Homo sapiens: one gene and its partners. The protein of the gene in region 1 interacts with the protein of each later gene in a pairwise test. Each region holds a gene or a part of one and is shown on either strand. Other genes may lie near its edges.

Region 1 (3,500 bases):
TTTTAGGTGTTTGTATTCCAGGGGGAGGAAGGGAACAAAATAATCAATGAGGTTCCGGTCAATTAAGCTGCTGTGCCAGAAGCCACCTGGGAAGAAGAAACAAGGTGCTGTTCATCCACATCCACCCACCTGCCCTATAGACGCCTCCTGGGGGTCACTTACCTACCCTCCCATCCGTCCCACAAACGTCTACTGGGGGTCACCTATCCATGCCACACACACCTACTGGGGGTCACCCACCCACCCCCCCCACATCTACTAGGGGTCACCCACCCTCCCATCCATCCCATACACACCTACTGGGTGTCATCCACCCTCCTATCCATCCCATACACATCTACTGGGTGTCATCCACCCTCCTATCCATCCCACACATACCTACTGGGTGTGCCCTCTCCCTTGTGGAGCTCCAGATCAGTGGGGAAGGCAGATGTTAACAGGCACCTGCACATTGTAATGCTTCTGTGACAGCAGAAGCTGTGACAGCCCTCTTTACACGGCGGGCTGGGGGAGGCCTCCCAAGGTATGACTTAAGAGATCGAAGATGGGAAAGAGGTCCTGGGGCCCAGGAACAAGCAGAGAGGCAGAGTGGGGAAGGCAGAGTTCCACAGAAAGCGGGAAGCAAGAAGAATTCCCGGGAAGGACTACCAGCCACGCCTCTGTATTTGGGAACTTTTTGACTCTCCCTGGAGTTTCAGCAGCTGGACTAGCAACAGGGAAGCCTGCTGCCGCTGCCACAGTGCCCAGACCCTGCAGAGCATGTGGGCACCAAAACTAGCCTGGAGAGTGCAGATGTGCAGCCCACGCTGGGCTCCCCGTGAAGGCCTGGCCTTGGCCGTGTTTTCTCCCCTGAATGCGGGCTGGCTCTGCACTGACCCGTCCACTCCTCCTGGGCTCCTGGAACTCCTGACCCAGGACACTTCCTCCCAGCCCCAGATGACACAGCACACACTGCGTCGCCCACGAGCCCATGCGTGTCTTCTACTGAGCTGATTCCCTTCTGGTCTGCCATGTAATTCTGGGGCTCCGTCCCCAACCCAAGCTCCTCCTCATTCACTGGGTTAATGCTTTTCATGCCCAACAGTGCTTTGCACACAACTGGTACTCAATAAATGTGTGGCTGACTGACAGAGTGGAGCCTATGGCCAGGGAAAGAACAGAACCAACCACTGAATGGGAACGAGGGGCTGTCTTGCTATCATGAACTCACGTGGGAGGCTGGTTCTCAGAGGCCTGCTCTGTGCCAGGCACGCCCTGGGCCTGGGGACACAGCTGAGGGCAGACGGACCTCACGGCTTTACCACTCTAGGGCAGGAAACAATCTCAGATGGTGCTTGGAGTGGCGAATGCCACACAGCAGAACGGACATGGAGAGCGGGAGGTGGAGCAGGCTGGGCAGGACCTCAGGGCAGAGCCCGAGCAACAAGGACCCAGCCACGCAGACCCAGGAGTGACGGCAGAACAGGTGACCTCAGGCAGCCCTGAGACTTCACAGTCATCTCCTGAGGACTCCCAAGTTTGCCCTCCTGGCCTGATGGCCTCCCTGGAGCTTCGTGGCTCTGCTCTGATGCCCTGATGCCATTGCCCACTGAGCTCGCCCGTCCTTCCTGCTGTCCCTTCCCTTCAATGGCAGTGCCACCCTTCCCATCGCTCAAGCCAGGTCCTTGATTCTTCTCTCATTCCCATATACAATTCTGCAGGAAGTCTTACAGGTTCTACCTTCAAAACACACCCAGAAGCCAACCGTGTCCCTCCACCCCCACCGCTTCCACGCTGGGCTCCCTGCCCCTGTGGCTGTGGGTCTGTCCTCCATCCAGTTGCCAGCAAGGTCCTGTGAAGGCCCCGTCAGATCACAGCACCACCTGCCCAGGACCCTCCAGGCCTCTCTCTTCCACTTGGAATAAGACTCAAGGTTCACCATGGCCCGCCAGGCTTCCCACGGTCTGCACCTCCACCCCAAATCTCGCCTCTTCTATCACCTCCCGTTTCCCTCCTCTGTTTATCCTCAACCAGTCACAGGGACCCCAAGCACAGGCCCCCCTCGGGCCCCTGGACGTGCTGTCCGCACTGGGGAATGCTTTTCCCTCAGACATCCACATGGCTCACTCCCCCGGGTCAGCCCAAATGCCACCCTCACAGGGAGCCTTCCCTGTCCACTCTATTAAAGCAGAGCCCATCCTTACCCTGAACCCCAAAGCCTTTCTTGATTTTTTTCCCCTACTGGCCCCGGGGGGAAAGATATCTATATGTCCACATGTGTACATGTGCGATGTGTGCATATGTACTGCATGTATACACACAAACACATCACACACATCAACATATCTATCCCCCATCATCTGATACATTTTCTTTCTTTATTATCACTAGGATGTAGGATTGATAAGGGCAAGAATTTCTGTGTTTGTTCACTGCTGTGTCCCCCGTCCTAGGTATGATGCCTGGCACTTACCAGATGCTCCATATACATGTGCTGAATCAATGTTCAGCCATCTGCCTGAGGTCACAGTCAGTCTGTGGGCCAGGGCTGCCCGACTCCCAGGTTGGCACTCCTAAGCACCGTGTAACCTCCACAGCGTGGATTCTAGGCCACGGGGCTCATCTGCCTCAGCATTAGGCTAAAGTTTCCACTGCATGTGCTCATGTTTTTTGGCAAGGCAAGAAACTATCCAACATGTTACAAAATACTTGTCTTTCCTCAGTAGTATTCCACTTGCACACACTGACATACTGTACCCCATGCTGTTCACTAACTGTAGGATTAATTTCTTGGCAAGTCTGTTTCAAATGAGCCCTTCTGTTTTGTCATCTCCAGAACCTGAAGCGCAAAGACTTGAACAGCCAGCCCTGCACAACTCACAGGTCTTAGCCAGTGAGTCAGCCTCCATCAGGCTGGCTTTCCACCTCCCCAGGTTCAAGGTCAAAGGTCTCATGACATTTGGAGAAGTAGTGAGCTAAAACTTAAAAGCTCAGGTTTTAGAATCAGAGATACCGAACAGGCTGCATGGCCCTGGGCAAGCTGCCACATCTCTGAGTCTCAGTCTCTACCCTGCGAGGTATGGTGAAGACTGAGTGAAATCCGCAGGCAGGCTGTTTCACACGGTGCCCAGTACAAAATAAGGGCCGAACCGCTATTTGGCTGTTGCTCTTGGGCAATGCAGAGAAAGGGAGGAACTAACAGGTCATCTCTCCCCCTGAGCTGCCCACGGCATCCTTCCTTGCTCAACCACTGGCTCTTTCTTCTACAAAGAAAATCATGTAGCTGAAGAAAATGGGGGAACTGGCCAGGCGTGGTGGCTCACGCCTGTAATCCCAGCACTTTGGGAGGCCGAGGCAGGCGGATCACGAGGTCAGGAGATAAGACCATCCTGGCTAACATGGTGAAACCCCGTTTCTACTAAAAATACAAAAAATTTGCCGAGTGTGGTGGCAGGTGCCTGTAGTCCCAGCTACTCGGCAGGCTGAGGCAGGAGAATGGTGTGAACCTGGGAGGCAGAGCT
Region 2 (3,500 bases), on another chromosome or scaffold:
AGACAAGGCTTCGAGGAAGAGAAAGTGACCAACTCCATCACACGCTGCTGGTAGTCAGGAAGGATGGCAACAGAGAACAGGCCATTGGGATGAGCAACCAGGCACTCACTGTAGACCTTGGTAAGAGATATCTGGGGAGAGGGGAGTGGAAGCCAAGCCTGCCTGAAATGAGGGGCTCAAAAGAGAATGGGATAGCAGCATCATTCACAATAGACAAAAGGTGGAAGCAACTCAGTGTCCATGACAGATGAATGGTAGAACAAAATGTGGCAAATGCATAGAATTGAATAATATTCTGCCTTAAAAAGGAGGGAAATTCCATGCCAGCTGTGCTGGCTCACGCCTGTAATCCCAGCACTTTGGGAGGCCCAGGGAGGGGGACTGCCTGAGCTCAGGGGCTCGAGACCAGCCTGGGCAACATGGCAAAACCCTGTCTCTACCAAAAATACAAAAAAATTAATTGGGCATAGTGGTGCATGCCTGTAGTCCCAGCTAACCCGGAAGCTGAGGTCAGAGGATTGCTTGAGCCTGGGGGGTAGAGGTTGCAGTGAGCTGAGATTGTGCCACTGCAGCAATCAGTGACAGAGTGAGGCCCCGTCTCAAAAAACAAAACAGAAAACCAAAAACCAAGAAGGAAATTCTTTCTTTTTTTTTTCTTTCTTTTTTTTTCTTTTTTTGGAGACAGGGTTTCCCTCTGTTATCCAGGCTGGGATGCAGCGGCAAGATCACGGCTCACTGCAGCCTCAACTTCCCTGACTCAAGTGATCCTCCCATCTCAGCCCCCAAGTAGCTGAGATTACAGGTGCATGCCACCACGCCCAGCAAATTGCTGTATTTTTTGTAGACAGGGTATCACCATGTTGCCAAGGCTGGTTTTGAACCCCTGGGCTCAACATCCGCCTCCTCGGTGCTGGGATTACAGGCATGAGCCACCATACCCAGCCCAAAGGAAGGAAATTCTGACACATGTTACAACATGGGTGAACCTTGAGCACATTATGCTGAGTGAAATAAGCCAGTCACAAAAGGACAAATATGGCATGATTCCACTTATATGAGGTATCTAGAACAGTCAAATTCAGAGACAGAAAGTAGAATGCTGGTCTCCAGGGACTAGGGGCAGGGGGGAATGGGAGTTGCTGTTTAATGGATACAGTGTTTCAGTGTCACAAGATGAAAAGCTCTGCAGATTGGTTGCACAATAATATCAGTATACGCAACACTACTGACCTGAAAACTTAAAAATAGTCAACACAGTAAATTTTACGTTATGTGTGTTTTATCACAATTTTTTGAGACACAATAGAAGGCAAAAAATTAGTAAGTCCAGAAAATTATTTCAAAAAGTTTTGCTCTAAACTGAAGAGAAATGGGTGTATAACTGTAGGGAGAAGTAGGGTGGAGAGAGGGTTCTGCTGTTTTTAAGTTGGGAGAAATAACTGCATGTTTATTTGCTGATGGGACCAATCCAGTAGGCCATGGTCTTAAATGTTGAAATTACTTGCAAAAGGCCGGGCGCAGTGGCTCACGCCTCACGCCTGTAATCCCAGCACTTCGGGAGGCCGAGGCGGGCAGATAACTTGAGGTCAGGAGTTCGACACCAGCCTGGCCAACATGGTGAAACCCTATCTCTACGAAAAATACAAAATTAGCCGGGTGTGATGGTGTGCACCTGTAGTCCCAGCTACTAAGGAGGATGAGGCAGGAGAATCACTTGAGCCCAGGAGGCAGAGGTTGCAGTAAGCTGAGATTATGTCACTGCACTCCAGCCTGGGCAACAGAGCAGGACTCCATCACAAAACAAAAAAAAAAGAAATTACTTGCAAAAGAAAAACTGTATTTTAGGATGATAAATATTCTGGAACTAGTGGTGATATCTGCACTACCGTATGCATGTGCTAAAAAACAGACTGGGTACTTGAAAAGGGTCAATTTTGTGGTATGTTAATTATACCTCAATAAAAATAAAAGCTATAATAAATGTTTAATGTCTTCCAAATACCATGTTCTCATACAGGCTGAGTTCCCACCCAGGCAGCCCCAGATACCTACAGTTTCTGTGGCCAGTGACCCACCACAGCTAGGTGGTAGCCTGCGGAACAGGAGAGGCAAGGTCATCCTCATTACGGCTGAGTCACAAATGCTGCATTAGCACACACAGCCCCCTACAGCTAGATCTACGGAGCATGCACCAATTTGTTGCAGATAAATGGCACCTTTTACTTAGGCCCATGAACTCTCAGGTCTTCAGTCTTAAAATGAAATCTAAGAGCTGGGCACAGTAATTCACATCTGTAATCCCAGCTACTCAGGAGGCTGAGGCAGGAGGATCACTTGAGGCCAGGAGGGCAACACAGTGAGACTCTGTCTCCAAAACAAAAAAAAAAAACCCTAAAATGTAAGAAAAAATCCTTTCAATCAGAACAAGAAACTCTGCACCCCCACTGCCAATCTGCCCACCCATCTGGTCCACCTGTAATTGCAAGAGAACAAGGGAGGGACTTATTTTGCAGTCAATCAAAGGGGAGGGAATTCTTTCCGAAATGTTCTCCTATCTGTACCAACAGCACACTTCCACTTCCAACCATTACACTTTTCCTTTCTTTCTTTTTTTTTTTTTCTGAAACAGAGTCTGACTCTGTCACCCAGGTACAGTGGCATGATCTTGGCTCACCGCAACCTCCGCCTCCCAGGTTCAAGCGATTCACCTGCCTCAGCCTCCCAAGTAGCTGGGATTGCAGGCACCCGCCACCATGCCTGGCTTAATTTTTGTATTTTTAGTAGAGACGGGGTTTCACCATGTTGGCTAGGCTGGTCTTGAACTCCTGACCTCAAGTGATCCATCCGCCTCGGCCTCCCAAAGTGCTGGGACTATTGGCGTGAGCCACCGCGCCCAGGCTTTTGCCTTTTTCCTTTCTTCTGAACAACCTCAAACAGTATTTTACCCACTGTGATGATTAATTTTATGTGTCAACTTGGCTAGACCATGGTAACCAGCTATTTGGTCAAACATTCTAGACATTTCTGTGAAGGTATTTTTTAGATGAGATTAACATTTAAATCAGTGGACTTAGAGTAAAGCAGATTATTCTCCATGATGTGGTGGGCTTTATCCAATCAGCTATAAGCCTTAATAGAAAAAGACCGACCTCCCAGAGCAGGAAGAATTCTACCCAGAGAGCCTTTGGGCTCACTGCAACTCTTCCCTGGGTCTCCGGCCTGCCAGTCTACCTTGCTGATTTTTGACTCACCTGGCCTCCACAATCACATGAGCCAATTCCTAAAAATCAACCTCTCAATAGATAGATGAGCGATTGATTGACACACATCCTGTTGGTTCTGTTTCTCTCCAAACCCTAATACACACCCAAAATAAGTGATTTTCCAATAGAAATTGTCTGTAAGGACCTGTACTTGCATGAAATTTCAAGTCACCAGATAAATGAATAAAAATATATTTTTTAAAAACCACAAAATATGGCAACCCAGAAAGAATAACA
Region 3 (3,500 bases), on another chromosome or scaffold:
CTGAAAGACGGATACTTAGCATGTTTGTGGGAAGCAATGCGGGGAGTTACCCTGGCAACAAAACTAATAGTTTTTTTTTTTTCCTGGCTCTTAAATTAGCATATACCTTAAAATACAGCCATCTCAACAAATTGCAAATGATTAACAACAAATTAGCAACTAATCTTATCTGAGTTTATCTGGTATGGCAGGTATCGGGCTATGCATTTCATGTTCATGGTCCCCCTTCATCTTTACAAGAGTCTTATGAAGTTTGTCAGCTGGGCGTGATTGCTCACGCCTGTAATCCCAGTACTTTGGGAGGCCAAGGAGGGTGGATTGCCAGAATTCAGGAGTTCAAAACCAGCCTGGGTAACATGGTGAAACCCCGTCTCTACTAAAAATACAAAAAAAAAAAATAATTAGACGAGCGTGGTGGTGCACACCTGTAATCCCAGCTACTGGGGAGGCTGAGGCATAAGAATTGCTTGAACCCAGGAGGCGGAGGTTGCAGTGAGCCGAGATCGCACCACTTCACTCCAGCCTAGGTGACAGAGCAAGATTCTGTCTCCAAAGGAAAAAAAAAAGATGTTTGTTCAATTACTGTGCTCATTTTACAGATGAGGAAATGAGAGGTTAAGTAATTTATTGAATTAAGGTCGGTAATTAGAGGACAGGCACAGTGGCTTACACCTGTAATGCCAGCACTTTTTGAGGCCAAGGCTGGAGTATCACTTGAGGCCAGGAGTACAAGACCAACCTGGGCAACACCACAGCAAGATCCTGTCACTACAGAAAAAGATTAACAAGTTAGCCAGCCATAGTGGTACACATCTGTAGTCCCAGCTCCTCAGGAGGCTGGGGTGGGAAGATTCCTTAAGCCCAGCTTTATCTCTTTGAGGTGGCAGTGAGCTAGGATTACACTATTGCACTCCAGCTTGGGCAACAGAGCAAGACCCTGTCTCTTAAAAAAATTTTTTAAAAGGCTGGTGATTGGAGACAACAAAGGAGACAAATCCTCATATTTAATGCCATAAATTATTAATATGATAGATTTCAAACCATTAATGGTTGCATTGACTTTCATCATGAATTTGAATTTGGTAAACATTTTCTTAATATGTCCGTTGTTGCCAGATGGCAGAATCATCTGTGTCCCTCTCCTTAAAGGAGGATACTTGCACATTTCCTTTTAATATTAAAACAAATTTAAACAAAAGGAAAAGGAATCCAGATTATTATTTCATTTATAGTTTATTTTCTTTTACCTCCTTTACACTTGGGATCGGATGATGGAAGTCAACTTTAAATACACCCTCCAGGCAGTAGAGATTCTCCTAAACTGTGCAGCGTGGAGCATAGTCCCAGGCCCATTGTAACTGTTGAGTAAATATCTTTTTAATTGTGTATAATTGAACTCTCTTAAAGGAAGTCACTTTAAAATTAAATATAGGGGGAAAGCAGGTTTCCAAATAAGATTTCTAAAGTGCATAATTGAATACTGCCACAGTGGCTCTGATGTTTGCAAATTACATGGCTGATGAGGTTTTGCAATCTTTCTGGGATGTCTTGAAGTGGTCCGCGGCTTCCTGAGTTTTTAATAAAGGCTAGATGACAGTTGTTTGTAGATCTTTGGAATGTGTAATTGATGTTAGAGCTCTTTATTATCTCCACGACCTCATTCCTGTTATTTAATAATCTCTCTGAGCTTCAGTTTCCTCCTTGATAAAACAGAGGTGGTCATTCCTCTCTCACTGTGTTTCATTAAATATTAAAAGAGATTTTGTGGGTTAAGTGCAAAGCACCCGGCTATGGTAAATGTTTAAAAAATGTTAGCTGTTACTTTTAACAAAAAGATTCCCACAAATAGTACTAATTGGTATCCTTTTGTAACTTCGACTAGGATCAAATATGGAAAGAGAAGTAAACTACAAGAGGCTCTTTGGCAGGACAGAATGGAGAGAGAGCCATTTCTCTTGATTTATTTGTGGATGAAATGACTGTTATCCCGATCAGAGAAGTCGCCTACACACCCAGCTCAACCAATGCTTAAAGTCTTTTGGATTCCTCTTTTGGATATGCTTTCAGAGCCTGAAGCATATTGTTTTAAAGATCCTCAAATATTCATCCTTTGAGAGTAGATTTGATTTTTGCAGAGAAGTCATTTGGAATAAAATCTAGGCATTACATTAAGTTTTCAAGCTAAATAGTACAGTTTTTATTTTTTAAAACAAGGCACTTGCTTTTATGAAATGGGGTGTGTATCTTTGAGTCAATTCTGATGGTAGCTTTCAGAATTCTGAAGACTTGAGTGGCAGCAAATTAAGTGTCCAGCTTTCCAAATAGACATTCATTTGATATGTTAAGTTCTGGCCCTTTTTAAAATTCTCTTGAAAAATAATATATAAATATAAAAAAATCTAAAAGTAATATAAAGATAATATATAAAAAATAGTAGTTGCTAGTTTGCTAGTCTGATGCTCTGAAGAGGTCTGTCTTTAATAAAATACTTCAACAAACACAACAGCCAATTGCAGTGTGGTATTCTTGTTTGGATCCTGGAACAGGAAAAGGACATTAGTGGAAAAACTAGTGAAATCCAAATAAAGTCTGGAGTTTAGTTCATAGTAATGCACCAACGTTGGTGTTTTAGTTTTGACAGATGTATCACGGTAATGTACAATGTTAACCTTACAGGAAATGGGTCAGGAGTATGTCAGGGCACTGTATTATCTTTTTGTTTTGTTTTCTTTTCTTTTCTTTTTTTTCTTGAGACAGAGTCTCACTCTGTTGCCCAGGCTGGAGTGCAGTGGCACGATCTCAGCTCACTGCAACCTCCCACTCCTAGTTCAAGCAATTCTCCTGCCTCGGTCTTCCGAGTAGCTGAGATTACAGGCATGCACCACCATGCCTGGCTGATTTTTGTATACACTGTATTATCTTTACACCTTTCCTGCAAATTCAAAATTATTCTAAAATGCAAAGTTGATTTAAGAAAAAAAACTAAATTACCAGAAAAAAATAAAGCAAGAAAAAGCCAAACTGTTATGATATGTTAATGTAGGTTCATCAAAGGTACTGCTGTGGTAGGGGATATTGATAATTGGGGAGACTGTGCATGTGTGGGGACAAGGAGGTATCTGGGAAATCTCTGTACCTTCCTCTCAGTTATGCTGTGAACCTAAAACTGCTTTAAAAGATAAAGTCCTTAATTTAAAAACAAAACAAAACAAACAAAAAAAACCCACGGTGTTATTTCCCTGCCTGTGGAGATTATTAACTTATCATTAAATGTGATGTGTATTATCTGTGAGCATAACTAATGGAGTCCTCTTTCTGCCTCCCCCCTTTCTGTTTTGCAGCATTGACAAGATATCTAAAGTCACCTCTCCTGTGTTGGTCATTCATGGTACAGAGGATGAGGTCATCGATTTCTCCCATGGCCTAGCGATGTACGAGCGCTGTCCCCGAGCCGTGGAGCCCCTTTGGGTTGAAGGGGCTGGGCATAATGACATAGAGCT
Region 4 (3,500 bases), on another chromosome or scaffold:
AACTGATTTAAAAAATACTGAGGGCTGCCAACCCCTCAGATTGCAGAACCAGGTGCACCCACCCTCCCCACCTTCCACCCCACACCAGCTGCGGCTCAGACCCTCCTGGAGGGGTGCTGTCAGCCTGCCTGCTTGGGCAGTGGAGTGGGTGGAGGGGATGTAAGTGGTGTGGCCTGGCAGGGAAGGGCAGTGACTGTTACTGTCTCAGAGGGCTGGTCTTCAAGGGCAGTGGGAGGGCCATGAGGGACATGCCCCACCCAGCCCCACTCAGCAGCCCCGTGGCCTCTTCATTAATCAGGAATCAGCCCCGAGCTGGGCTCATTATCAGCTCAGCTTCTCAGACACTGCCGGAAGATGCTGATTAGCGTTTGAAGAAATGGCCCCACGTCCTGTCCCCCTCTGATCCTCCCTCTGTCTCCCCTGCCCGCACTCCTTCCTGGACCCCCACCCCTGCCCTTCTGCTTCTTGGGAGGAATCTGCTCCCTCTTGTGGCTGGCGGCAGGGCTGCCTCTGCTAGGTCCAGGCAGGGGGCAGGAAGGATCAGGAATGGAGAGGCAGGGGCACCCAGGAAGCACTACAGGGAGCATTGGAATGCCAAGACCCAAGCTACTCAGTCCCCGAGTCGTCAGTGGGTCCCATGGGCAGGCAGGAGGGAGTGAAGGGGGTGGAGCCTGAGGTGGTCCAGGAGAGATGGACAGCCACCCTGCAGGAGGGGACAGAGGCCGGCCTCAGGCTGCCTCTGAGTTATAAGTTATAAGTATTCCTGAGTTATAAGTATTCCTTGCCCTTCCAGGCTGGCCCTGCAGCCCACCTCCTTTGAGCAGCTGGGAAGAGGAGGTGGGAACGGCCAGCACTGGGGGCAGGAGGCCCGAGGGGAGAAGATCTGCCACGTTTGTTTGTTTTTTAATTTTTTTGCAAATCATGGTGGAAACTTAGGGTCTTCAGAAGGATGAGTGAGGATGGGAAGGCAGGAGGAGGACAGAGGGGCAGAGATCCTGAGAGTGGAGATGGGAAGGTTCAGTGGTGTGTTTTCTAGGAAGAGGTGGGCAGGGGTCTGCACTTCTTCCCCTGGCTCCTAGGCTGGGGCTGGCAGCGCTGGAAATCCAACCCACCCCTCAAATGCTCACCATGCCCTTGGGACACCCGTGGGTGTTGGGTTGGAGGGGGAGCAGTTCCAGAGAGATAGGCACGGGCTGCAGCAGCCGAGGCGGCAGCAAGAGTTCAGAGAGGAGCCACGGGATGATTAAGGGGAAATGGAGGATTGATTTAGGAGGAAAGATTAAAGGAGCTAAATCCGTGGCGCTTGGCTCAGCGGTGACTAAGCGTGGACAGGATAATAGCTTACAAATGTGTGGAAGGTGTAAATACCAAACGGGGGGAGGGGAGGCGGCTCGGCGGGCCCGGAGGGTGGGGTGGGGGCTGGGCAGGTCCCCGGGGAGGGCTGGGAACCCCTGGGCGACTGCCCGGTGGGGTCGGCCCCTCCCCAGTGGGGGCTCACGGGGGAAGGAAACGGGACGTTGGGGAGCCCCAGGTTCCCAGTAGGGGTTCCGTTTCTGGTCGCAGCCTCCCGGGCCTCGTGCTGATCATGTCTCACTCCCGCCTGGCTGGGGATCTGAGGTCGCGGGTTCAAATCCCACCCGAGCACCCAAGTCCCTCAGTGCCCCCGGCCCCGGGCCTTTTGGCCGCTTCAGGCCCGCCAGCCAGGCCCAGCTCCGCATCCATCTCCTCGGGACCCCCGCCCCCGTCGCCCCCTCCCCGGCCGCCGCGGGGGCGGGCGGCGGTGTTTCCCTCCGCGGTGGAAGCCTCTGGCGCTGCTGTGTGCGGAGGTCACTTTGCCGAGGAGCCGGGAGCCGGGGGAATGCAAATGAGGCAGACCCAGGGAGGAGAGCGGAGGAGCCCGCAGGAGATGGGAGGGAGGGCGCTCGGGAGCCGTGATGGATGCCTGGCCCGCGGGAGGGAGCGGAGGGCGGCGAGGCGCGCGAGCCGGTGGGTGCGGCCCTCTGGGTGCGGGTGGGCCAGGCCTGGGCGGCCAGGCTGTGTGTGCGGGAGAGGGCGGGGGGCCAGGGATCCTGGCAGGCGCACACCCACCCACCCACCGTCCCCGCCGCCTCTTTCTGTCTTGTCTCCTGAACTCCCGCCTGGCTGTGGGAGTGTGCTCCACTGTATAAGCAAAACTCTTGACGAGGAACTTTGCATCGAGGGGCGGGAATGTCAGGGAAGGACTTACTTACCAATTCACCAATTAAAAACTGACTTTCTAGGGTGTAAGGCCTAAGCGGTCGCTGCCTGGGGAATGGTTTTGACCGTTTACCTGGGTCCCGGAGGCCTTCATCCTCCCGTTCTCCTCTCCCGTGGAAGCGCGGCGCCCGCCGGGGACCACAGCCTTCTTCCACGGCCCCCAGCCCTCCCTGGCTCCTAGGGCTCCCCTGTCCCTTCCACCACAGCTCACACATTTACATTTGAACAAACACCTCAGCCATTGCCTCCTAGATCCACTGTAGGGAGGAAGTGGCCCTGAAAAGCTCATGGGTGGCGGTGGAGGTGGGGGGTCCCTGTATGCACGTGTAGAACTAAGCCTGCTGAGGGCGCTGTGTCTTCCTCTTTCTTGAGTGTGGCATTGTCTGATGCCCCTCCTGGGTGAGCCAGGTGGCTTGTTTAGAGAAGTTTTTCCTGACCCTGCAAGCCAAATTGAGCTCCTGTTCCACCGTGGTGACCTTGGCTAGGTCACCCCATCACTACAAGGATCACAACTAGTAACAATTTATCCATTTGTGTGACTGGTGGATTTGTGAACATGCCTGGTGCAGTTCAAAGTGTTTATGTTGTAAGTGCCCCATAAGCACTTTTTTTTTTTTTTGAGACAGGGTCACGCTCTGTTGCCCAGGCTGGAGTGCAGTGGTGCCATCACGGTGGCTCCCTGCAGCCTCAACCTCCCAGACTCAAGAGATCCTCCCACCTCAGCCTCCTGAGTAGCTGGGACTACATGTGTGAGCCACCATGCCTGGCTAATTTATTATTATTTGTAGAGACGAGGTCTCGCTATGTTGCCTAGATTGGTCTCAAATTCTTGGGCTCAATCGATCCTCCTACCTTGGCCTCCTAAAGTGCCGGGATTACAAGTGTGAGCCACCGTGCCTAGCCCATAAGTACTTTGAATGAATGAATGTCTCTGCAGCCAGACAGCAAGCTCCTTGAGGGCAGAGGCTGTCTGTTTTGTTCTCTGTTGCATGTCCAGCACCAAGCACACAGTGCCTGACACTGTTGAGCACAGGCTCAATGAATAGTGTTGGACAAAGTAAGTGTTGTTTGAACATTCACCAGTTCTTGAGCGCCTACTATTTGTAGGTACTGTGTGCCAAGTGTATGTCACACAGTGGCTATGGGTGGACTCCAGGGCCAGACTGCCTGGTCCCCTGTCAGCTTCCTTATCCTCTCTGTACCTCCGTTACCCTGTCTGTAAAATGAAAACGATAGGACTACTGCCATATAGGAGTTTTGTG

The links.
Region 2: the proteins of TOR1A (region 1) and SPATA12 interact in binary tests that used the Homo sapiens proteins (3 or more experiments, as listed by UniProt).
Region 3: the proteins of TOR1A (region 1) and ABHD17C interact in binary tests that used the Homo sapiens proteins (3 or more experiments, as listed by UniProt).
Region 4: the proteins of TOR1A (region 1) and ASIC4 interact in binary tests that used the Homo sapiens proteins (3 or more experiments, as listed by UniProt).

The regions. Positions count from the first base shown.
Region 1 is NC_000009.12:129,814,137-129,817,636, forward strand, and holds part of TOR1A (torsin-1A precursor), read right to left. Parts: intron 87-3,500; coding exon 1-86. UniProt on the Homo sapiens protein: Protein with chaperone functions important for the control of protein folding, processing, stability and localization as well as for the reduction of misfolded protein aggregates.
Region 2 is NC_000003.12:57,063,664-57,067,163, forward strand, and holds part of SPATA12 (spermatogenesis-associated protein 12), read left to right. Parts: intron 1-3,500.
Region 3 is NC_000015.10:80,750,810-80,754,309, forward strand, and holds part of ABHD17C (alpha/beta hydrolase domain-containing protein 17C), read left to right. Parts: intron 1-3,341; coding exon 3,342-3,500. UniProt on the Homo sapiens protein: Hydrolyzes fatty acids from S-acylated cysteine residues in proteins. Has depalmitoylating activity towards NRAS and DLG4/PSD95.
Region 4 is NC_000002.12:219,520,982-219,524,481, forward strand, and holds part of ASIC4 (acid-sensing ion channel 4), read left to right. Parts: intron 1-3,500. UniProt on the Homo sapiens protein: Does not exhibit measurable stand-alone pH-gated sodium channel activity but may form pH-gated heterotrimeric sodium channels. Its activity could also depend on alternative gating mechanisms.